Linked DNA regions of Homo sapiens. The protein of the gene in region 5 interacts with the protein of the main gene of each other region in a pairwise test. Each region holds a gene or a part of one and is shown on either strand. Other genes may lie near its edges.

Region 1 (4,109 bases), on a different chromosome or scaffold from region 5:
CTGATCTCGCTGAAATAGCTGCCACTCCCACAGACCCTGCAAAACCACCACAGGGAACCTGCGAACCCAGCTGTCTCCCTTGTGATGGTGCCAGACACCTGTGGGACACTTCGAGGTCCAGCTGGCTAAACCGGCTGCAGCCCAAACTGAAGGCCATCGGGATGGGGGGAGCAAGCACTTTCAGGTTGAAATGAGTGAATGACCTTTTATGTCCTCCTTCCAGCCAACTCCAGCGCACCCGGCCTTGCAGAGCAGAGGCACTGAGCTCCCAAGTCCAGGGGAGGGGCTGCTCAAGCCCCCAGGCTGGAGGGGTGGGCGCAGGGACCTGGGACCTGCGGAGTCAGGGGAGAGGGGGTCTCTACAAGACTTCTCTCACGGACCATCACCCAACCCCGGCACACACAGAAAAGGGGTCCAGCCTGCAAACGCCACCCCCCTTGCCTCCCTGCCTGGGATCCCCAGCCTGAGAGGGACAGGTCTCCAGTTACATCAAGTAGATATCGCAGAAAGTCCCTCAAGTTTATTTTAATAGGCTTTAAACACAAATATGCAACACAAACTGTAGGGGCAGGAAAAGGGATGTTGTGACCCCATTCATTCAACTAATCACGGCCAGGGCTGCCCCCACCCCCATCCATTCTGACATCCAGCCAGAACCTTGTCCCAGCATGTGGTGGGCAGGGGCGGCGGTCGGGGGGCAGGCCGCCCACGCATCTCCCAAATGCCACGAAGAGACAGGTGGTATCTGGTGGGTCTGTCTGAGGCAGGTGCAGAGGCTGCAGCATCCGAACGTGGAAACGTCGCTCCAGCCTGGAAGGGGACAGAGGCAGACGCCACGTGGAGAGAAATCCGAATTCTGATGGTGTGGGGGGGTGGAAGAATTGAGAAGGAGGCACAGCAGCTGCCGCCCCATGTGTTTCGGGAGCGGTGATGGCTCAGATGAGGAGCCATACATGATGGGTGTCCGTAACAAAAGAAAAAAAACAAACAAACCACGAAGCCAGGGCCACGTGGAAATTAGCTCAAGTACCCAAGGTCAGGGCAGGTTAGGGCAAAGCTCTCACCGAAGTCCACCTAATGAGGAATTACTTAGTGCTAACGATGCTACAACTCTGACCACAGCAGCCTAATACACTGTACCACGTTCTAGCATCACACGGAAGTCAGTATTGCTGTGTAACTGCATTTAGCAGGTGCGGCTATGTAAGCGGTTCCTAATTCGGACAGCTAAGCTGTAACTGAATTTGTGTTTGCAGGTTGTGCCTGCTACTAGAATAAATACTTGTGTATTTAGTCAATGTGGCAAGATCTACTCTAATGGAATGCCCAACTCAATATCACAGTATCATGCAGAGCCACTAAAGCAAAGAGAAATGGTGGTGTTTCCATGTGGATTTACTGTGTACGTCCCCAGAAGGAGCAAGACCCTTGGAGGTTGGCTGGAGATGCACCTGAGGCCCGGAAGCCCAGCGTGGACTCATCCTAGGGCCAGGGACCATGTCTGCCTTCACGTTGGCAACACGTGTGCCGAGCAGGCGTGCCCTGGACAAGCCGACCCCGTCCGCGGGCTGTTTTCTTCCCCGTTCCATGGCTCCGGCCCCTGCAGGACCCCCTCATGGTTCTTCTCGCCTTGGGCACGCTCAAAGACAGGCCTGTGCTCAGGACAATTTTGGGGGGGTCTCAGGGAGAAAGTGCAGGGTCTTTGTCACATACAGGAAACAAGGGCATCATCATCATCACCATATCTGTTAAAACTACTTCTTCCTTTTGTGTATCATGCTCCTAATCTTCCACACCACTACATGAGTACTGTTCATATCCTAATTCTACCATTTTAGAGACAGATGCCAGTCCAGGAGCTGGTGCCCCCTGGCTGGCTGTTTCACTGGGCTCCTCTGTTTGGGAGAACCTTCTGGGTCTAAGATGGGAGCACGGTCAGCAGCAGCGTTGCCTGATCATCCAGCAGGAAGTGCAAGTGGGTTTCTGGGTGGTCGTGTGATGATCTAGCACAGCTCAGAACTGGTCCCCCGGGACAGAAATGGTGTTTTTTTTTTCTGGAAGCCCCTGCTAGAACCCCTGAGCCATCTCAATGTGCAGTGAAGGGGTTGAGTTGTAGAACCAAACTGAAGGGGGGCTGCTAGGAAATGGGGGCCTGAGGGTCCTATTTCAAAGAGTTGATCATTTACAGCATCGCATCAGAGTGAACCACATGGAAAGCTGGAGTGATGTTCCCCCTCTGTGCCTGGTCAAAATACAGACCTTGGCAGCAATTTCCTTCATGAGGATGGAGCGCGAATGGGCACAGTCATCTGCAAGGTCATCCTCACTCTTACTCAAAGGTCATGCTCTGCCATGTTTTCCGGAGGGTGCAACAATAGCTTAATGACCGAGTCTGAGATGCCATTTAGGAAAAAAGCAAAACTTGTGTTTACAAGACTATCAGAGATGAGTCACTGTCATGGGTAACATCTGCAAAACTGCTAAACCCCCTTAGGGTTTCCCACTGCTCTCCCTTATCCGCTCATGACAGGAGTATCAATAATTAAAACTTGCGAATGGAATAATAGTGATCTCACATCATGTTGACTGAGAAGCTGATTGTTCCAAAGGCAGTTACCGTTCACAAATAGCTGGTGTTCGTGTTAAAGAGAGTACCACTTGGTGGTGAGTTGAAAGGCGCTTCTTCTCTGTATCTTTTTTTTTTTCCTTTTTCTATTTTGGGTAGAAATATTCCTGGGAAGCTAGATAGAAATGCATTTTCATTTCCCAATAATTCTTAGGCACAAGTTAGAAAACTGCTGACCTTCACTAAAATATGTCAGCACTTCATGTTATAAAAAATGAAATTCAGAACCGCAGCATGTGTATATACGTATATCTAAATATACACACATATCGGTGCAGTACACAATGATTATTCAATGTATATTGAAAACTGAGCTTTTTGTAACTAACCTGAAATTCTGCAGTGAAAGTTCATTGCTCAAGAACAATTGCAAGTGTCTTTCTTTTGGCTCTAACTATGGTAAAACGTTTGCACATCAGACTTTACCATTTACACATTCCTAAGTGCCGACACCAGGGCAGTCTTACACGGGGATCAGAGGAGGACGCGCCTAGGATGCATTCGCAGCTACTGAGCATGCGCACAGGGCCAGCTCCGGCGGCACCGGGTCGGTGCTCCCTCAGGGTGGAGACCGGAGGACGAGAAGCCGGAGCTCCCGCAGGCCGTGTAGTGGCGTCATCTGGGTGTTGTGCTGACTCTGGCCGGAGAGGAGGGCCCCGAGGAGGAGCCGCGGTAAACGGGAGATGTGGGCGAGAGTTTAATCGGACTGGTCGGGTCCCCAGTTTGGAGCTTCCAAAGCAGCTCTTCATTGGTTCGGCTCAATCTCTTCTTCTCCTGGGTTTCCTTCTCAACATATTCCTGGAGGTTAGCATTTTCCTCCGACAGCTGTCTGCATGGGCACAATGACAAATAAGTAGCAATCATGCTAGTGGACACTGAACCTGAGGTCAGGACAATGGTGCAGGGCAAAGGGAGGAGGCCATGATGACCGCAGGGAGAACAGGGACCAGGGTGACCCAGTGACCAAGAACTTTGGTTGAATCATGATTTCCATTTGGCCCAATGACACATCTGTTCCCAGAGCCTCTCTGGCCAATACCCATCATCCCACAGGCCCTCTGCCCGGTCAGGGGAGGCACTGGCTGTCCACTGGACAGAGCAAAGGCCAGCGACTGAAAGGAGGGAAGCGGAGAGCTGGAGTGGGTATGCTGCCCGGAAGCTCCGAAAGGAGAGACAGCCGCGCAGCTGGCAATTGACAATGACAACAGCACAATAGCAGTGAAGAGCCGCGGGCCTTCCTGAGACTGCCAGGAAGCTGGGGGTGCCTTCTCCTGGCCTCCCTGCCCCAGGCTTGTGCCTCCACGATGGCAGGTGTCCTCCCCTGCTGGAAATGCTGCTCTAGGGGTCTGTGTCTGCCTGCTAGACTGGGAGCTCCGGAGGACAGAGGCCAAGGCTCTGCATGCTGAACTCCCAGCATCCAGCTGGTGCTAGGCACGTAACAGATGCTCAGTTAATGTTTGCCGATAAAGGCTGGTGGGTGAAA
Region 2 (3,500 bases), on a different chromosome or scaffold from region 5:
CTGCACTTATGGCACCGAGATCATCTCTAAGTGGAAAAGCCTCCTAGAGAATGACCAGCTCTTGTCCCATGGCGGACAGGACCTCTCAGCAGATGCCTTTCACAGGTACACCACAGAGCAGGGCTCTGTACCCCAGCTCCTTTCTCCTGGGGGGTTGGGAAGGATTGCTGAAGGTGGGGGAAGGCAGCAGTGCTGGCCTTGATTAATTCTCTGCTCATGCTGACAGTGCTTTAGGAATTTAAATTCATTTGGCTATGAATTTTTTTTTTTTAATTTTTTTGAAATGTTTTATTTCCATAGGGTTTGGGGAACAGGTAGTATTTGGTTACATGAGTAAGTTCTTTAGTGGTGATTTGTGAGATTTTGGTGTACCCATCTCCTGAGAAGTATACATTGAATCCAATTTGTAGTCTTTTTTTTTTTTTTTTTTTTGAGATGGAGTCTCACTCTGTCACCAGGCTGGAGTGCAGTGGCGTGATCGCAGCTCACTGCAACCGCCAACTGCCTGGTTCAAGCGATTCTCCTGCCTCAGCCTCCCAAGTAGCTGGGATCACAGGCACACGCCACCACGCCCAGCTAATTTTTGTATTTTTAGTAGAGACAGGGTTTCACCATGTTGGCCAGAATGATCTCAATCTCCTGACCTCGTGATCCACCCGCCTTGGCCTCCAAAAAAATGCTGGGATTCCAGGCGTGAGCCACCGTGCCTGGTTCAATTTGTAGTCTTTTATCCCTCACCCCCTTCCCATCCTTTCCCCGAGTCCCCAAAGTCCATTGTGTCATTCTTATGCCTTTGCATCCTCATAACTTAGCTTCCACTTATAAGTGAGAACATAAGATGTTTGGTTTTCCATTCTTGAGTTACTTCACTTAGAATAATAGTCTCCAATTCCAACCAACTTGCTGCGAATGCCATTATTTCATTCCTTTTTATGGCTGAGTCATATTCCATTATATTTATACCACAGTTTCTTTATCCACTTGTTGATTGGTGGGCATTTGGGTTGGTTCCACATATTTGCAACTGCGAATTGTGCTGCTGTAAATTTGTGTGAGCAAGTATCTTTCTCGTATATGACTTTTTTTTTTTTTTTTTTTTGAGATGAAGTCTTGCTTTGTCGCCAGGCTGGAGTGCAGTGGCACGATCTCGGCTCACTGCAACCTCTGCCTCCCGGGTTCAAGCGATTCTCCTGCCTCAGCCTCTCGAGTAGCTGGGACTACAGGCGCTCGCCACCATGCCCAGCTAATTTTTGTATTTTTAGTAGAGACAGGGTTTCACCATGTTGGCCAGGATGGTCTCGATCTCTTGACCTCGTGATCCGCCTGCCTTGGCCTCCCAGAGTGCTGGAATTACAGGCGTGAGCCTCCGTGCCCAGCCATGACTTCTTTTCCTCTGGGTAGATACCCAGTAGTGGGATTGCTGGATCAAATGGTAGTTGTACTTTTAGTTCTCTAAGGAATCTCCACACTGTTTTCCATAGTGGTTGTACAATTACATTTGGCCATGAATTCAGCTGACACTTGTCAAATGTCTGTTGCGTATCATGCTTGTGCTAGGTGCTGGGCTTACCCTAGGAGCACAGCAGACAGCCTCTGTCTACAGTACAGCAAAAAAAGCAGATGGGAAGTAAGGTAGTGAACAAATAAAGGCAGGATGCACACCAGGTACAGCGATAGAGAACTGCAGGAGCAACCTACTTGGAACGGGGGTTGGCACAGAGGTCTTAGGGGAGGTGACGTTGAAATTGTGATAAGAGGGTGAGAGGCATCAGCTCATGAATAGAAGCCTATAGGTGGGAAAGCACTTGATACCTGGGAAGAGGCCCTTGTGACCCTAAAGCAGCTCTGCCAGGTGGATGGGCACTACCTAGGAGACTGAGGCCTCAGATTGAGAGGAGAGTCAAGAGAACAAGGAAGAGGCAGGCTCAGTCTGGCCAGTATGGTGACTGGCCTGATGGTTTCCTCTGATTGGATTTCCATGCTGTTGCATTTTTATTCCTGATTCTAGAGAGGCAGGTGGTGGTGGTGTACTTTGAAACCAGTCAGTGTAATTAACCAGCCTGTCCTCTGCCTTTCTCCCATAGGTTGATATGGGAAGTCTGGATGCCTTTTGTTCGAAATATTGTCACCCAGTGGCAGCCAAGGAACTGTGACCCGATGGTGGACTTTTTGGATAGTTGGGTGCACATTATTCCTGTGTGGATCTTAGATAACATACTGGACCAACTCATCTTCCCCAAGCTGCAAAAGGAGGTGGGATGAGAGTCATGGGAAACAGTCGTCATCACTAATCACAGGGACTTGTTCAGTCTGTGGCTTCATTATCTCAGTGCTGTTAAAACGCCTGGAATTAACGGAATTTGTCAACACAACTATTGACCTATAGTGTTAATTCCAGCCTTTTTCTCAGCACTTTTTCCCCCAAGCCACCCTCAGGAGGGAATTCATTTTCTTGATTTTGTCACTAAAATTAGAATTGTGCTGTTTCTGAGATGTAATCAAATGGATGGGCATATTTGTTTGGCAATGTACAAAGGACTGTGGGCCTCAGAGAGCACAGGGCCTCCTCCAGGGGCAGCTCTTGCCTTTAGCCACACAGGGGTGTTATGTGACTGCCCCACAGGCGACATGAACTGTTTCTCCTCCCCACTTCGCAGGTGGAAAACTGGAACCCGCTCACAGACACTGTTCCCATCCACTCTTGGATCCACCCATGGCTGCCCCTTATGCAGGCACGGCTGGAGCCACTCTATTCCCCCATCCGTAGTAAGCTGTCCAGCGCCCTGCAGAAGTGGCACCCCAGCGACTCCTCTGCCAAGCTCATCCTCCAGCCCTGGAAGGATGTCTTCACTCCTGGCTCCTGGGAAGCATTCATGGTCAAAAACATAGTGCCCAAGCTGGGTAAGGATAAGGGGAAATGCATTCCAAGCCCAGCAGCTTTGGTGCCCTGGTTTCTGTGGTTAGCAGTGATGATTTAAAGCATCGCCTTTATGTTCATGAAAGTGCTTAGTACACAATATTCCTTGCTGTGAAAAAGGTAACATTTTGTTCAGAGGCTGAACATAAATGTAACTTGGGTCCTTTCCGCTGTTTATTTACAACAGTCACTAATAGTCGACAGTGACAATATCGGACTCTGTGCCTTGTGGTTTTCCCGATTGGTTTTGGCTTCTGGTAATAGGACAGCCATTGGAGTTCTAAAATTTTTGTGGTATTTTACTCTAAATTATTAGGGAGTTATTTCCAGGTTAGCAAAAAAAATATATATACATACACACACACACACACACATATATGTATATATATACACACATGCATATACATGTATATATACACATGTATATACACATATATGTATATACACACATATATATGTATATATGTATACACACACACACATATATATATGTGTATATATATACACATATATATTTTAAGAATCGCTATGTCGGGAGCTTAAATTTGACCTTTAAAAGCAGATTACAGCCTGAGCAACATGG
Region 3 (3,500 bases), on a different chromosome or scaffold from region 5:
GGTGCCTAGGCAGACCCTGGTTTGAATCTTGGCCTTACCACTTTTTGCATGTAAGTGGTAGGGGCAGCAGATAGCTCAGGACATATCTTGGGTTTTTTTGTTTGTTTTTGTTTTGAGACATAGTCTCACTCTGTTGCCCAGGCTAGAGTGCAATGGCACAATCTTGACTCACTGCAACCTCCACCCTCCCGGGTTCAAGTGATTCTCCTGCCTCAGCCTCCCGAGTAGCTGGGATTACAGGCACCGGCCACCACACCCAGCTAATTTTTGTATTTTTAATAAAGATGGAGTTTCACCGTGTTTGCCAGGCTGGTCTCGAACTCCCGACCTCAGGTGATCCACCTGACTCGGCCTCCCAAAGTGCTGGGATTGGCCAGGTGTGGTGGCTCATGCCTGTAATCCTACACTTTGGGAGGCCAAGGCAGGTGGATCATTTGAGGTCAGTAGTTCAAGACCAGCCTGGCCTATGTGGTGAAACCGCATCTCTACTACAAGTACAAAAATTAGCCGGACATGGTGGCACACGCCTGTAGGCCCAGCTACTCAGGAGGCTGAGAATCACTTGACCCTGGGAGGCGGAGGTTGCAGTGAGCCGAGATGGCACCACTGCACTCCAGCCTGGGTAACAGAGCAAGACTCTGTCTTAAAAAAAAAAAAAAAAAAAAAAGTGCTGGGATTACAGGCTTGAGTCATCCCGCCCTTCAGGACATATCTTTTGAATTTTGAACCTGGTGAATGAATTTTTAGATGACCTCAGGACAGTCCTCAATTTCCACATGACCTCAGTTTTTCCAGCTTTGCAAGGGGAGTATGAAACCAGCCCTGAAGTCTTGCTAAGAGGATTCGGGGAGCTCATAGAAGTTGTGAGTTGGTTCCTCCATTCGCCTGGGTGTTGTAAGGGGCAGGGCCTGTGTCTTGCTTGTGGCCTGCCAGGGTAGCAGCTCAGTAAGTGAGATGGTATCTCACTGTGGTTAGGATTCACATTTCCCTGATGACTAGTAATGTTTCCGTGTAATTTCTTGAATGATCATTCAGTAACAATAAGTGTAGGTTGAGTTTGTAGAATCAGGTTGACCTCCTCAGCCTCGATTTCCAAATGGAGAAAGCAGAGATTTGGAGCTCCTGGTCAGAGGAGCAGGTCGGTGCTGGAGCCAGGACTCAACCTTAGGTTGTACCTCTGAGCCTTTGAACACTTGCCGTTTCTATTCCTCACAGCAGCCCTTTCAGACGGAACGGGTGTTACCAGATTAGGAGGAGAGTGGCCACTGTATTCTCAGTGCCCAGCCCAGGGAGGCAGATCTGAGTGGAGTTGCTAATGAAACATGGAAGGTGCTTGAGAGCTAACTGGAAGGGAGGGAAGGTGTGCATTCCTGCACCAGGGCCTTTGCATGTACTTGTTACTTTCTCCTGCTGGCCAGCTGGAGTGTCTGGAAAGATCTGCCTTACTCAGGGAAGCCTTCTCACTCGCACTCTGCCCAGTTAGGACCACTGCCCTCTAGAGACCCTATAGAATTACAGAGGAGGCCGGGCGTGATAGCTCACACCTGGAATCCCAGCACTCCAGCCTGGGCGACAGAGTGAGACTCCATCTCAAAAAAAAAAAAGAAAAAAGAATAAACCCCACACACCTTTGCCTTCCCTTTGCTTTCCCTCACCACACCCCCATTCTCCCCGCCTCCCAGCCCCTGGCAACCACTAATCTGCCTCCTGTCTGCGTGGATTTGCCTGTCCTGGACATTTCCTATAAATGGATCATACAATCTGTGGTCCTTTTGTTTGGCCTCTTTCTGTTGGAATAATCTTTTCCAGGGACATCCATGTTGTAGCATGTGTCAGAATTTCCTTTCTTTTTATAGCTGAATAATATCCCATTGTATGGACTGACCATGTTTAGTTGGCCCATCCATCCGCAGATGGACGTTTGGATTGTTTCCACCTTTGGGCTATTGTGAATAATGCTGCTGTGAACGTTTGTTTACAGGTTTTCAATGCAGGCAAATGTTTTCGTTTTTCCTGGGCATAAATTCCAGGAGTGGAATCGCTGGGTCATATGGTAACTCTCTTTAACCGTTTGAGGAACCGTCAGACTGTTCTCCATGGTGGCTGTGCCATTTGACATTCCCACAAGCAGTGGAAATGGGTTCTGGATTTCTCATCCTCACCAACTTTTTTGATTCCAGCCATCCTAGTGGGTGTGAGATGGTGTCTCATTGTGGTTAGGATTTGCATTTCCCTGATGATGTTTTCTTCTAATTTCCCTGATGACTAGAGATGTTTTCATGTAAGTTATTTATTTATTTATTTATTTTTGAGACAGTGTCTCTGTCTGTATCCCAGGCTGGAGTATAGTGGCGCAATCACAGCTCACTGCAGCCTTGACCTGGGCTCAACAACAGATCCACCCCCCACCACACCCTCCCTAGTAGCTGGGACCACAGGTGTGCTCCACCATGCCGGGGTAATTTTTGTATTTTTCGTAAGAGGCAGGGTTTCACCATGCTGCCCAGGCTGGTCTCAATCTCCTAGGCTCAAGTGATCCACACGCCTTGCCCTCCCAAAGTGCTGGGATTACAGGCATGAGCCACTGCACCCAGCCTCATGCAATTTCTTTTTCCTTTTTTTTTTTTGAGACAGTCTTACTCTATGCCCCAGGCTGAAGTGCAGTGCCACAATCTCGGCTCACTGCAACCTCTGTCTCCTGGGTTCAAGTAATTATCTGGCTTCAGCCTCCCTAGTAGCTGGGACTACATACCCACACCACCTTACCTGGCTAATTTTTGTATTTTTGGTAGACAGGGTTTTGCCACGTTGGCCAAGCTGGTCTCGAACTCCTGGCCTCAAGTGATCCGCCTGCCTCAGCCTCCCAAAGTGCTGAGATTACATGAGTGAGCCACTGCGCCTGACCTCATGTAATTTCTTGAGTGGTCATTTAGTCATTATACAAACAGTGATTGAAGGGCATGTGCCCAGCACTGCAGACTCTGCTGCACAGTCAGATGACCCTGCCTTTCTGGCATTTCCATGCCAGTACCCTGAAGAGATACCATATATGTACCTGGTGCTTGCAATAGCTGGCACTCAGAGGTAGCACACTGTGTCCTAGCCACTCTTCCGAGCACTTAAGCATATTCAGTTACTCTTCAAGTACATATGAATAAGTATGCCTTTGCCCCCTCCTCTTTGCAAGGGATAGCGTGTGGCCACCCTGGTCTGCAGCTAGCTTAGCAGATTTGACCACATATTGTAAAAGTGAGTCTGTACCAGGACAGATAGGGTAGAGGGCTCTGTGTGGTTTAGCACCATGGTAGATTCCATCGTGCGGATGTCCCTCCAGCAGGGGAGGTCTTTGGGGCCAGGGCTAGGCCAGCACCCACATTTGCCGCCTGACCCCGTCCCTCCGTCTCTGTCTCTCCATTCCTCCCTGCCCCTCGTGCAGCCGCTGCCATGGCCCAGACACTGCAGATGGAGATCCCGAACTTCGGCAACAGCATCCTGGAGTG
Region 4 (3,500 bases), on a different chromosome or scaffold from region 5:
CAGACAGATGGAGAGGCTAGAGACTGGGAGGTGGGGGTGTGGAAGCTGGGCCACCAGTTCCTGAGGGGGCAGGGGAGATGAGTGAAGGAGCGCCAAGGTCACCAGAAGAATGGAGCAGGCTTCCCCAGGGGCTCCCTGTGGCTTGGGCACCCCTGCCTCCTGGCCCAGCGTGCTTTCTTCCGCAGCCCGTGCTGCCAAGGCAGAAAGCTAAGGTGAGCAGACGAGATCTTCCCCGAGAGAACCCTGGCTGGGTGGGTAGCGTTCTCTGGAAGGGTAGCCTGGATTGGGGGACTCTTGTTGAAGAAAGGTGGCAGGTGTCCATGGCCCCTGGCAGGTGGGGCTGGCACTGCCCATGCTGTTCCTCAGCTGGGGCTCAGTGCTGGGCTGCCCTCGGGACTGTCGCTCACCAGGCACTCGTTGGATTTGAAGCTCGCCAGGGACTTGCAGCTGGGAATGGAGGCCAGGGAGCCGCAGAGGCCCAGCATGGAGGGCGTGGGGTCCTTCCCTGGGGAGAGAGGGCAGGTGAGGCCAAGCGACCAGTCTACATGTGTGGGAGTTGGTAGAGGGGTGGGCAGTGAAGGGGCAGCCCTCAAGTCACCCCCCAGGAGACCTTGGCATATTCCACAGCATTTGCCATTTTCAGTTAAACTTTGGTTAAGCACCTGCCTGTGCCAGGCACCGTGCTGGGGACACTGTATTGTAATCGTCAGTTGATGTCTCTGTCTCCCCGTGAGGGTCATCCTCTCTCTTTGTCCATTTATTAAATACACAGTGAGCACTCGCTCTGTTCCAAGCACTGGGGATACAGAGAACGGACAAGACACGGTCCCTGCCCTCATGGAGCTCACAGTCTGGTGGGGGAGACAGACACACAGACAATCACAAACACAGTGTGATGGGGCTACATGGCCACAGCCTGCCTTGTCTCAAAGAAGATCTAGGGTCATCCAATACAGTGTGGTTGCTTATAAAAAAGAAAAGACAGGATATTCAGGCATAGGGAGAACTAGGATGGGAAAAACCAAGGTGAAGCCAGGGATGAGGTCAACACAAAGTGCATGCGTTGAAGTCCTGGGCATTCGCTCGAAGGGAGCCACTAATTTGGCTCTGAGCTTCCTGGCAGCCAAAGAGAAGGGGGAAACAATGGTCAGGCAAGTAGTTCACAGTGTGCATGAGATAAGAGCAAATTAGTCTAAGGAGTTCCCCGAGAGTTTGTGAGCCCCCGAGGATGTCATGACACTAAAAAACCACTGAGCCCTCACCATGTGACAACATTGGTGATTATCAACATCCCCATTTACAAAGAATAGACTCATGGAGGTAAAGTGATTGACCAAGCTCACATGGTCAGAGGAGGCACAGCCAGATTTATGCTGGGTTCTGCATATGCTGTGTTCTGCCACCTCAAAGTAAGCTCTCGATTGCTGTGCTAAACCCTCAAGAAAGGCTGAGAGAGGCCGGGCACAGTGGCTCACACCTGTAATCCCAGCACTTTGGGAGGCCAAGGTGGGTGAATCACTTGAGGTCAGGAGTTCGAGACCAGCCTGGCGAAACTCCGTCTCTACTAAAAATACACAAATTAGCCGCGCGTCTCTACTAAAAATACACAAATTAGCTGCGCGTGGTGGCAGGCGCTTTTAATCCCAGCTACTCGGGAGGCTGAGGCAAGGGAATCCCTTGAACCCGGGAGGCAGAGGTTGCAATGAGCTGAGATTGCGCCACTGCACTCCAACTTGGATGACAGAGTGAGACTCCGTCTCAAAAAAAAAAAAAAAAAAAAGACTAAGAGAATGAATGAGGACATGCCTTGAGGCCTCAGGGCCTTGCCTCAGCCCTTTCTGGAGGGGTACTGGGTGTTGGGTTGGGGGAGCTCACCGATGGGACCCCAGGGCTCCTCGTCCCGCGTGCCCTCTCCCAGGCGCTGGGAGTCCGAGCTCAGACTGGCTTCAGCTGACAGCGGCTCCGTGCTCATGAAGCTGTGTCTGCGGCAGAGCGAGAGCTGGTGCGCCGGTAGAGGAAGCCCTTCTTCCCCAGGACGACCCGCTCTCAGGCCCAAGCCCCACCTGGCTGGGGCTTACCTCCGGTAGAGCTTGGAGTTGCTGGCGCCCTCGGCCCCATTAAGCGTTCCCAGTGAGGGCCATTGATTGACCAGGGGTGTAGTGAGCTCCTTGGAACCCTGGGCCAGAGGGGCGTGGTCACTGGGGATCAGACCTGTCCTGGGAGGGGGAGGAGGAGTCAGGCCTGGCTGGAAGTAGGAGAAGTGAGGAAGGGAGATTCAGCAAGGGGATGAGGGAGGGGTCAGGAATGAAATCTGAGCGGCAAAAATGGGGATACGGTGTTGGGGTCAGTGGGCCAGATCCCGGGAGGAAGTGGAGGTGGTACTGGGGTGGAGGGGTGACAGGGATTCGTGCACAAATATTGGGAGTTGGAGGGAATGGTGCAGTGTTGTTGGGGTCAGCTGGGGTGATGGGGACGTCAGTGGAGGATAGTGTGGGAATCCCTGAAGTGTAAGATCGTCTTGGGGATCTTGCCGCAAGATCAGGGTGGTGGAAAGGCGTAGAGAAGAAGTGTTACAGGGATCGGCAGGGGTGAGGTCGGGGGTCACGGCGGATGATGACGGTCAGTGAGCCTGTGGTGCAGGTGAGTGAGGCGATGAATGCAATCGTGTTGAAGGTTGCAGAGCAACACCGCAGGTCCTTGTGAGTGACGTGGGGTCCCTGCAGTAAGGTTGGATGGCCACTCTAGCGGAAGATAACTGAAGGTGAAGGGTGGGCTCTGGCTGTTGGAAGTCACTGGATCTTATGCTGGGGGCAATGTTAGAAGATCATTGTGGGCATCTCGGGGTGGGGCTGGCTGGATCAGAGGGTTGATGCTGGAGAGGTGGGTGCTCGTGTCGGGTGATGTTAGAGTCGATGGAAGTGAAGATGGGGTTCACCCGGTGATGTGGTCGGGGCGGCGGGGGTCAGGGGTTAGGGCAGGCCGTGCGCTCACAGCTGCTCCTGCAGCTCCAGGATCACGCCTTCCAGCTCCCGTTTCTCGCGCTGGTTCTGCGCCGCCGCCTCCTCCAGCTGCAGCTGAAGCCGCCGGTTCTCCGCCTCCAGGTCCTTCAGCTGCGACTCGCGCAGACGCACCAGCTCCTCCAGGTAGCCCTGCGGGGCGCCGGCTCAGCCCGGGCGGCTGGGAGGACGTCCCGGCCGCGGCCCCCATCCCCGCCCCGCCCCGGGATGCCCGGATCCCCCGCCCGGCCCGCCCGCCCCCCGGGCCCGCCGGCGTCGCGCACCTTCTGCGCGTAGACGATGCGGAACTTCTGCTCCATCTTGTGCCACTTGCTGTACCAGCTGTCCTCATCGGTGACGAGCGGGAGGTACGGGTGCTCGGGCGAGTTGTCCTCGCTCGTGCTGCTCTCGGCGCTGTGCCGCTCCTCCTCGTCCGTCAGGTAGTCGTAGCTTGGGAGAGGGAGCAGTGGGCACGGCCGGTCCCGCCCCTCCCCCCGCGCGTCT
Region 5 (2,961 bases):
GAATTACTTCAGGCAAGACAGAATTGCTAAAAAAAAAAAAAAAAAAAGGAGTAGTCATCAGATCTGCCACATTTTCAAGTTTTGTAATGGAAAATGGCAGGTATTCTGGAGGGAGTTTCTGGAGGAAGCCAAACTTTCACTGAGGCTTAAATATGATGAACAATTAACCAAATAAAGTTGAAATGTTTTATAATTGTCATTAAATCCTTGATATTTAAAAGGAGAAGCAGTATGGTTCTTAGAAAGCATTCATTCCCGGCCCAGGAGTGGTGGCTCACGCCTGTAATCCTAGCGCTCTGGGAAGCCGAGGCAGGCGGATCACCTGAGGTTGGGAATTCGAGACCAGCCTGGCCAACATGGTGAAACCCCATCTCTACTAAAAAATACAGAAAAATTAGCCAGTCGTGGTGGCACATGCCTGTAATCTCAGCTGCTTGGGAGGCTGAGGCAGGAGAATCACTTGAAGCTGAAAAACAGAGGTTGCAGTGAGCCCAGATTGCCCCACTGCACTCTAACCCGGGCGACAAGAGTGAAACTCCGTCTCAATTAAAAAAAAAAAAAAGAAATAAAAGAAAGCAAGAAAGCATTAATTCCCATGCACTGGTCCTGGAGAATCTATAATTCAGTCTTTTATCACAGGTTCACATTCCCTTATAAAAAGGTAACAGTTGGATGCATGTCTGGAGGAGCTCTTGGGCTTGTCCGATTGTATCTTTAACTTCTCATCTGCACCTTTAGCTATGGCTATTTGGGCTGTGCTTAGAAAATGGCCATACTCAGGGCACTGTAGAATGAACAGTCCTTCCTGTTTAGGCATTTCTCCTTCCACTTTAACTTCTGACTCTGTCTTCAGGGCATTTCTGTTATATTAAGCTTCTTAAGTGATGAGTGGTCTGGTGTTTGTGTTATGCAACTCAATTTAAGATAGGTTCATGTGAGATCTGGCAGAAAGCAGGCTGGGGTGGGGTGTGGAGATACTGAATATTGTGCATGTAGCATATGAAAGGCAAACATAAATTTAATTCAGAAACAGGCAATGTTTATTTATAGTTAAGGGTCAAATGAATTATACAAGGGACATATGACAAATAGGATGTAATTTGCTTCATTAATCCAAATGAAGGAGAGTAACTTTCTTTCTCCTCAGAAATACAGAATCACACATACTGCAATACTTCCAGAAATAAATCATCCACTGAGTCTTAAAAGTAAAGAACTCTGTGTTCTTGCTCTGGTGTCTACATAACCGGGATCTTATAAGTAAGCCAAAGACATCTAAATGGCTTTGCCTAGAAGCCAAGGCCATTGGTCCAACAAAGACATCTTGAGGTTACTGGAATGCATGGAGAATAATCGCCCATCTGATGACAACAGCACGTTTAGCTCAACTCAGTCACACATGGACTGGGGAAAAGTAGCTTTTAAAAACTTTTCTGGTGAAATGTGCAGACTCAAATGGTTAGAGATTTCTTGCAACTTGAGAAAATTCGGCACTTTGAAAGAATTAGTCCTGGAAGCTAAGAAATGTGTTAAAAAGATGAACAAAAGCCAAAAATACAGGAACGGTCCAGACTTTCCAAAGAGGCCCCTTACTGCTTACAATCGCTTCTTCAAGGAGAGTTGGCCCCAGTACTCCCAAATGTACCCTGGGATGAGAAGCCAGGAACTGACCAAAATCCTGTCAAAGAAATACAGGGAACTCCCAGAGCAGATGAAACAGAAATATATTCAGGATTTCCGGAAGGAAAAGCAAGAATTTGAGGAAAAACTTGCTCGATTCAGGGAAGAACACCCTGATTTAGTCCAGAAGGCCAAGAAATCTAGTGTCTCCAAGAGGACTCAAAACAAAGTGCAAAAGAAGTTTCAGAAAAATATTGAAGAAGTGAGGTCTCTTCCAAAAACGGATCGATTTTTCAAGAAGGTAAAATTTCATGGAGAGCCTCAGAAACCCCCCATGAATGGATACCACAAGTTTCACCAAGATTCCTGGTCAAGTAAAGAGATGCAACATTTGTCAGTGAGGGAGCGCATGGTAGAGATTGGCAGACGCTGGCAGCGCATCCCGCAGAGCCAGAAGGATCATTTTAAGAGCCAGGCTGAGGAGCTGCAGAAGCAATACAAGGTGAAATTGGATCTCTGGCTCAAGACTTTGTCACCTGAAAATTATGCTGCATACAAAGAATCGACCTATGCTAAGGGTAAGAATATGGCCATGACAGGAGGCCCGGACCCCAGGTTGAAACAAGCAGATCCACAGTCCTCATCAGCAAAGGGTCTGCAAGAAGGGTTTGGGGAGGGGCAAGGGCTCCAGGCTGCAGGAACAGATTCATCACAGACTATTTGGGTAAACTGTCATGTCTCCATGGAACCAGAAGAGAACAGGAAGAAAGATAGAGAAAAGGAAGAAAGCAGTAACTCTTCAGACTGCAGCAGTGGAGAAGAAATAGAAGTTGATGTCTGAGGGCAGTGGCTCTAGTGCAGCTTCCTTGTTTTTTTTTTTTTGTTTGTTTGTTTTCTTTTCTTCCTTCCTCCCGCAAAGTAGGACAGGTTGGGAAGAAAGAAGCAACTTGGTGCAGCACTCTCCTACATCAAGATTATGAACCTGGGAGGAACTCTTTGGGAAGAATAAATATAAGTTTGAGCCAATACTGGCCTTATCCTTAAAAAAACAAACAAACAAATATCATCCCTTTCCCGAGGAACTTTATGCAATTAAGGCTTCTGAAATGAAGAGATGATTACGTTGTGGGGTACACACTGTATTAGACTGAATATTTCTGAAGCAAGAAGCTTTGCTTTACTCATTTTTGTCCTGCCAAAGGTGGTAGGGGGATACCCATAAGCCTGGGACCCAAACTTCCCTGTGGAAATGTTTTTCAGGACTCCTGCACTAAATCTAAGGTCGGGGATATTTGATGAAAGGTGGGGTAGGTGTCTTAAGAGAATTGTCCCACTCTTGAT
Region 6 (3,500 bases), about 34 Mb from region 5:
TCATATCCATGAGCATGGAATGTTTTTCCATTTGTTTGTGTCCTCTCTTATTTCCTTGAGCACTAATTTGTAGTTCTCCTTGAAGAGGTCATTCATATCCCTCGTAAGTTGTATTTCTAGGTATTTTACACTCTTTTGTAGCAATTGTGAATGGCAGTTCATTCGATTTGGCTCTGTTTGTCTGTTATTGGTGTATAGGAATGCTTGTGATTTTTGCACATTGATTTTGTATCCTGACATTTTGCTGAAGTTGCTTATCAGCTTAAGGAGATTTTGGCCTGAGACGATGGGGTTTTCTAAATATACAATCATGTCATCTGCAAACAGAGACGATTTGACTTCCTCTTTTCCTATTTGAATATCCTTTATTTCTTTATCTTGCCTGATTGCCCTGGCCAGCACTTTCAATACTATGTTGAATAGGAGTGGTGAGAGAGGGCATCATTGTTTTGTGCCGGTTTTCAAAGGGAATGCGTCCAGTTTTTGCCCATTCAGTATGATATTGGCTGTGGGTTTGTCATAATAGCTCTTATTATTTGGAGATATGTTTGTCAATACCTAGTTTATTGAGAGTTTTTAGCACGAAGGGTGTTGAATTTTATCAAAGGCCTTTTCGGCATCTGTTGAGATAAACATGTGCTTTTGTCATTGGTTCTGTTTATGAGATGGGTTACGTTTATTGATTTGCGTATGTTAAGCCAGCCTTGCATCCCAGGGATAAAGCCAATTTGATTGGTGGATAAGCTTTTTGATGTGCCGCTGAATTCAGTTTGCCAGTATTTTTTGAGGATTTTTGCATCATGTTCATCAGGGATATTGGCCTGGCATGTTCTTTTTTTGCTGTGTCTCTGCCAGGTTTTCATATCAGGATGATGCTGGCCGCATAAAATGAGTTAGGGAGGAGCCTCTCGTTTTCTATTGCTTGGAATAGTTTCAGAAGGAATAGTACCAGCTCCTCTTTGTATGTCTGGTAGAATTTGGCTGGTCCTGGACTATTTTTTGTTGGTAGGCTATTAATTACTGCCTCAATTTTGGGACTTGTTTTTGGTCTATTCATGGATTTGACTTCTTCCTGGATTAGACTTGGGAGGGTGTGTGTTTCCAGGAATTTAACCATTTCTTCCAGGTTTTCTAGTTTATTTGTGTGGAGGTGTTTATAGTATTCTCTGATGGTAGTTTGTATTTCTGTGGGAACAGTGGTGATATCCCCTTTATAATTTTTTATTGTGTCTATTTGATTCTTCTCTCTTTTCTTCTTTATTAGTCTGGCTAGTGTTCTTTCTATTTTGTTGATCTTTTCCAAAAACCAACTCCTGGATTCATTGATTTTTTGAAGGGTTTTTCATGTCTCTATCTCCTTCAGTTCTGCTCTGATCTTAGTTATTTCTTGTCTTCTGAGGCTTTTGAATTTGTTTGTTCTTGTTTATCTAGTTCTTTTAATTGTGATGTTAGGGTGTTGATTTTAGATCTTTCCTGCTTTCTCTTGTGGGCCTTTAGTACTGTGAATTTTCCTCTAAACACTGCTTTAGCTATGTCCCAGAGATTCTGATACCTTGTGTCTTTGTTCTCATTGGTTTCAAATAACTTATTTATTTCTGCTTTATTTTCATTATTTACCCAGTAGTCATTCATGAGCAGGTTGTTCAGTTTCCATGTAGATGTGTGGTTTTGAGTGAGTTTCTTAATCCTGAGTTCTAATTTGATTGCACTGTGGTCTGAGAGACTGTTATGATTTCCATTGTTTTGCATTTGCTGAGGAGTATTTTACTTGCAATATTGTGGTCAATTTTAGAATAAATGCAATGTGGTGCTGAGAATAATGTATATTCTATTGATTTGGGGTGTAGAGTTCTGTAGAGGTCTATTAGGTCTGCTTGGTCCAGAGCTGAGTTCAAGTCCTGAATATCCTTGTTAATTTTCTGTCTTGGTCTGTCTAATGTTGACTGTGGGGTGTTAAAGTCTCCCACTATTTTTGTGTGTTAGTCTAAGTCTCTTCATAGATCTCTAAGAACTGGCTTTATGAATTTGGGTGCTCTTGTATTGGGTACATATATATTTAGTATAGTTAGCTCTTCTTGTTGCATTGATCCTTTTACCATTATGTATTGCCTTCTTTATCTCTTTTGATCTTTTTTGGTTATAGTCTGTTTTATCAGAGACTAGGATTACAACCCCTGTGCTTTGTTGTTTTTTTTTTCTTTTTTCTTTATTTGCTATCCATTTGCTTGGTAAATATTCCTCCATCCCGTTATTTTGAGCCTATGTATGCTTTGCACATGAGATCGGTCTCCTGAATACAGCACACCAATCGGTCTTGACTCTATCCAATTTGCCAGTCTGTGGCTTTTAACTGGGGCTTTCAGCCCATTTACATTTAAGGTTAATATTGTTATGTGTGAATTTGATCCTGTCATTATGATGCTAGCTGGTTATTTTGCCCATTAGCTGATGTGGTTTCTTCGTAGTGTCAATGTTCTTTAAAATTTGTTTTTTTTGCAGTGGCTGTTACCAGTTGTACCTTTCCATGTTTAGTGCTTCCTTCAGGAGCTCTTGTAAAGCAGGCCTGGTGGTGACAAAATCTCTCAGCATTTGCTTTTCTGTAAAGGATTTTATTTCCCTCCACTCATGAAGCTTAGTTTGGCTGAATATGAAACTCTGCATTTAAAATTCTTTTCTTTAAGACTGTTGGATATTGGCCCCCACTCACTTCTGGCTTATAGGGTTTCTGCTGAGACAGCCGCTGTTAGTCTGATGGGCTTCCCTTTGTGGGTAATGTGAGCTTTCTCTCTGGCTGTCCTTAACACCTTAACATTTTTTCCTTCATTTCCACCTTGGTGAATCTGATGATTATGTGTCTGGGGGTTGCTCTTCTTGAGGTGTATCTTTGTGGTGTTACATGTATTTCCTGAATTTGAATGTTGGCCTGTCTTGTTAGGTTGGGGAGTTTCTCCTGGATGATATCCTGAAGAGTGTTTTCCAAGTTGGTTCCATTCTCCCCCTCACTTTCAGGTACACCAATCAAATATATGTTTGCTCTTTTCACATAGTCCCATAATCCCTGGGGGCTTTGTTCATTTCTTTGCATTCTTTTTTCTCTAATCTTGTCTTCAAGCTTTATTTCATTAAGTTGATCTTCAATCTCTGATATCCTTCCTTCTGTTTGATCGATTTGGCTATTGATGCTTGTGTATGCTTCATGAAGTTCTCGTGCTGTGTTTTTCAGCTCCATCAGGTTATTTATGTTCTCTTCAAACCAGTTATTCTAATTAGCAATTCCTCTAACCATTTTTCGAGGTTCTTAGCTTCTTTGCATTGAGTTAGGACATGCTCCTTTAGCTCAGAGGAGTTTGATATTACCCAATTCTTCTATTTGTTATTACCCAATTACTTCCATCAATTCATCAAACTCATTCTCTGTCCAGTTTTGTTTCCTTGCTGGCGTGGAATTGTGATCCTTTGTGGGAGAAGAGATGTCTGGTTTTAGAAATTTTCAGCCTTTT
Region 7 (3,500 bases), on a different chromosome or scaffold from region 5:
CTGGGAGTGGCCCGGGGTACCTTTCTATCAAGTTCTTTGAATAGTCAGTTGCTGTGGAGAGAGCAGACAGACCAGGTCTTTTGGGACAGCAGCGTGAGCCTAATCAGAGCTGCCAGAGGCCTGTGGGCCGGGGAGTCACACAGGACAAGCGGCAGGCCCAGAAATGGGAAGTACTTGGGCTTCCTGCAACCTGGAGGTTCAAATTCCAGCCAGCTGACTCCGGATTTTACCCTGCTAGATCAGAGATGTCCTCGCCACTGTGCTGAGGTGCCAGTCCAGGAAGACCTGGCCCCAGCAGCCCTGACCTCATGCCACTCAGGGGCAAATCCCCCTTACCCCTAAGAGCTGTTTCCAGATGCAAACTGAAGCAAACTCTCACTACCAGAAGATTCCCTTGAGAATGTGGGCCCCAGAACAGGAATGTGATTGGAACCTGAAACAATAGGGATGGTGGCTGTGTGGCCCCTGCCACACACAAAAGGTAAAGTGGAGAGAATATGCTCAGTCATTAACAAAACAAACTCAAGGATTTTAAAAATTTAACCAAGACCTAAACCTTACTTCAATCTTTTCACAATTGCCATATGTCTGATTTGATTTCAAGGAACTTCTCTGCTACAGGTGACATTGACTTCTAAAAATTAAACCTAGAAGAGGGGGACAGTAGTTAGTATTCATGTGGCACAGGCTTCATGTTCTAAGTGTTACATATGTCAACCCACACAGTCCCCACCAGCACTGCTTCTTGTGCAGATAGGGAACGGGGCGGGGGTGGGGTGATTTGTGCTGCCCAAGGGATGCAGCTGAGACCAGGGAGTAGGAAGGACTTCAGGAGACTCCCGGCATGAGAGCTTCATTCCAGCCTTCCAAGGAAGCTGGGACTGAGGAATGGGCCATGACCTCCCAGCTTTCTTTCCCTCTTCCTGCTAAGCTGTGAGCTGGGTGCAGGTGCATGAGCAAGTCAACAAGCCAGATGGGCCAGTCTGTGACCAAGGCAGGAATTAGTGCAGGTGACCCTCCAAAAAATGGAATTCTTTACTAAACTTTGGAGTCAGATGGAACTGCATGAAACCCTGGCTTTTAATCCAGTTTTTTCATTTTTTTTTTCCCCAGAGATGGGGGTCTTGCTCTGTTACCCAGGCAGAGTGCAGCAGTATGATCAGAGCTCACTGTAGCCTTGAACTCCTGGGCTCAGATGATTCTCCCATCTCAGCCTGTGAGTAGCTAGGACTATAGGTGCACGCCACCACACCCAGCTAATTTTTTATTTTTTGTAGAGACAGGGTCTCCAGGTGTTGCCCAAAATGGTCTCAAACTCCGGGCTTCCAGCAACCCTCCGGCCTCAGCCTCCCAAAGTGCTGGGATTTCAGATGCAAGCCACCACACCTGACCCTTAACCCAGCCCAGTTTTCAAAGAGGGCTTTTTTTTTTTTTTTTTTGAGACGGAGTCTCGCTCTGTCGCCCAGACTGGAGTGCAGTGGCACAATTTCGGCTCACTGCAACCTCTGCCTCCCGGGTTCAAGTGATACTCCTGCCCCAGCCTCCCAAGTATCTGGGATTACAGGCATGCACCACCACATCCGGCTAATTTTTGTATTTTTAGTAGAGACAGAGTTTCACCATGTTGGCCCAGCTGGTCTGGAACTCCTGACCTCAGCTGATCCACCCGCCTCGGCCTCCCAAAGTGCTGAGATTACAGGTATGAGCCACTGCACCCAGCCCAAAAAGGTTTTTAACCGAGTTAAAATATTTAGCATCTAACACCAGGCCAGCTGTTTACCTACCCATCCAAGCTGTATTCTGTAATAGGAGCTGGACACATCTACCTCACCTCAAAAAGTTTTTGTGAAAACTACAAAGGAGAAAGTGTCTGACACATAGCACTCAAAGTTACCTATTATAAAGCTTCTTTTTTTTTTTTTAAGGAAAAGATGTTTAAAGTGCATTTTATTTTTTTATTTTTTTGAGACAAAGTCTCATTCTGTCGCCCAGGCTGGAGTGCAGTGGCACAATCTTGGCTCACTGCAACCTTTGCCTCCTGGGTTCAAGCGATTCTCCTGCCTCAGCCTCCCAAGCAGCTGGGATTACAGGTGGGCACCACCATGCCTGATTAATTTCTGTATTTTCAGTAGAGACGGGGTTTTACCATGTTGGCCAGGATGGCCTTGAACTCCTGGCTTCAAAGTTCCACCTGCCTTGGCCTCCCAAAGTTCTGGGATTACAGGTGTGAGCCATCCCGCCCAGCCTAAAGTACATTTTAATAGTGAATTTTTAAGAACTGCAAATTAAATAAAATGGCTTAAAAGATTAAAAAGGTTTAGTAACTTTTCTTTCCAATGAAACATAGAAACTGGAGGGAGGGGGATGAAACCAAATAAAATGCTCTCCCTGAGGACAGGAGGAATGTTCCCATGCCATCCACTCTGGTGCCGCGGGTCTCTGGGTTCACAGGACCGGCTGGGAGCCTCAAGGGTCTCAGGACCCAGCCCCCTTGGCAGTGGCATCCTGCCCAAGGGACTTGCAGGACATGTTCGCAATTTGTTTTTATTTTTAGGCACATCTGCAAATGCAGTTTGAAAAATACCAGTCCTCACAAAACCAGGGCAATTTTCCCCAGAGTTTTTCTAAAGCTGTAATTGTAGCTGCCTTCCTTATTCAGTCAGAGCACAACCTCATCTTCCGCATGCAGCCAAGCACAGCCGCACAACCCTGCCCGCGCGCCTGTGATTTGGCGTCTTAATCTTTGGTCACTTGCGTCTTCTGAGTCTTGAGTAAATGTGCCATCTTCCTCAGCTAAGAAGTTCCACTTACGTTCTCCCCAACCTCGTGGAGGGCTACCTCCTCACATGGCTCACAGGAGACTCTGCGTATTAACCTTGGCATGCAGAAGCTGAGGCTCAAGGTGGAAGGAGGGACCGCACATTCCAGCATCCAGCCATGTGACTGACTGCACAACGGTGACTAATTTTCCTAGGAGGTATAAGCTGAGTTTCCGCTGCACTTCCCATTTTATCAAGTGTTTTATTTTGTGACCACACAAGCTGATTAGGGTTCGGGGCAGTTGGGTGTATACTGCACCCCCAATCCTAAGCAAGCCTCAGTCCTTCGCTCTGCTAGCTCCATGCTCAAACCAAAACAGCCCCTGACATACAAGAAAAGGCCAGTAAATGACTTATTCAATTGAGCAATCAATGCCCTGATACTGATGCAACTGTGTTTCACTAGTCAGAAATAACTGAAAATCAGACAAGAGGAGAGGTGGCCACAGGTAGAAAAAAAATTAAGAGGGTTGATTGATTGATTGATTTGAGATGGAGTCTCGCTCTGTTGCCCAGGATGGAGTGCAGTGGTGCGACCTCGGCTCTCTGCAACTCTGCATCCCGCGTTCAAGCAATTCTCCTGTCTCAGCCTCCCGAGTAGCTGGGACAACAGTCATGTGCCACCACACCTGGCTAATTTTTGTATTTTTCACTAGAGATGGGGTTTGGCCATGTTGGCCA

Evidence for each region.
Region 1: the proteins of UBTFL1 (region 5) and MTUS2 interact in binary tests that used the Homo sapiens proteins (3 or more experiments, as listed by UniProt).
Region 2: the proteins of UBTFL1 (region 5) and TFIP11 interact in binary tests that used the Homo sapiens proteins (3 or more experiments, as listed by UniProt).
Region 3: the proteins of UBTFL1 (region 5) and NACC1 interact in binary tests that used the Homo sapiens proteins (3 or more experiments, as listed by UniProt).
Region 4: the proteins of UBTFL1 (region 5) and RUNDC3A interact in binary tests that used the Homo sapiens proteins (3 or more experiments, as listed by UniProt).
Region 6: the proteins of UBTFL1 (region 5) and OR5AS1 interact in binary tests that used the Homo sapiens proteins (3 or more experiments, as listed by UniProt).
Region 7: the proteins of UBTFL1 (region 5) and BEND3 interact in binary tests that used the Homo sapiens proteins (3 or more experiments, as listed by UniProt).

What each region holds. Positions count from the first base shown.
Region 1 is NC_000013.11:29,502,339-29,506,447, reverse strand, and holds the end of MTUS2 (microtubule-associated tumor suppressor candidate 2), read right to left. Parts: intron 3,456-4,109; coding exon 3,242-3,455; 3' UTR 501-3,241; downstream 1-500. UniProt on the Homo sapiens protein: Binds microtubules. Together with MAPRE1 may target the microtubule depolymerase KIF2C to the plus-end of microtubules. May regulate the dynamics of microtubules at their growing distal tip.
Region 2 is NC_000022.11:26,495,474-26,498,973, reverse strand, and holds part of TFIP11 (tuftelin-interacting protein 11), read left to right. Parts: coding exon 1-105; intron 106-2,084; coding exon 2,085-2,253; intron 2,254-2,657; coding exon 2,658-2,901; intron 2,902-3,500. UniProt on the Homo sapiens protein: Involved in pre-mRNA splicing, specifically in spliceosome disassembly during late-stage splicing events. Intron turnover seems to proceed through reactions in two lariat-intron associated complexes termed Intron Large (IL) and Intron Small (IS).
Region 3 is NC_000019.10:13,131,764-13,135,263, forward strand, and holds part of NACC1 (nucleus accumbens-associated protein 1), read left to right. Parts: intron 1-3,436; 5' UTR 3,437-3,444; coding exon 3,445-3,500. UniProt on the Homo sapiens protein: Functions as a transcriptional repressor. Seems to function as a transcriptional corepressor in neuronal cells through recruitment of HDAC3 and HDAC4. Contributes to tumor progression, and tumor cell proliferation and survival.
Region 4 is NC_000017.11:44,315,101-44,318,600, reverse strand, and holds part of RUNDC3A (RUN domain-containing protein 3A), read right to left. Parts: intron 3,447-3,500; coding exon 3,281-3,446; intron 3,150-3,280; coding exon 2,992-3,149; intron 2,217-2,991; coding exon 2,079-2,216; intron 1,983-2,078; coding exon 1,876-1,982; intron 1,565-1,875; coding exon of another isoform or gene 1,478-1,564; intron 1,117-1,477; coding exon of another isoform or gene 1,097-1,116; exon of another isoform or gene 740-1,096; intron 506-739; coding exon 363-505; 3' UTR 1-362. UniProt on the Homo sapiens protein: May act as an effector of RAP2A in neuronal cells.
Region 5 is NC_000011.10:90,084,671-90,087,631, forward strand, and holds UBTFL1 (upstream-binding factor 1-like protein 1), read left to right. Parts: upstream 1-1,279; coding exon 1,280-2,461; downstream 2,462-2,961. UniProt on the Homo sapiens protein: Essential for proliferation of the inner cell mass and trophectodermal cells in peri-implantation development.
Region 6 is NC_000011.10:56,034,154-56,037,653, reverse strand, and holds part of OR5AS1 (olfactory receptor 5AS1), read right to left. Parts: 3' UTR 1-3,500.
Region 7 is NC_000006.12:107,105,516-107,109,015, forward strand, and holds part of BEND3 (BEN domain-containing protein 3), read right to left. Parts: intron 648-3,500; exon of another isoform or gene 562-647; intron 1-561. UniProt on the Homo sapiens protein: Transcriptional repressor which associates with the NoRC (nucleolar remodeling complex) complex and plays a key role in repressing rDNA transcription.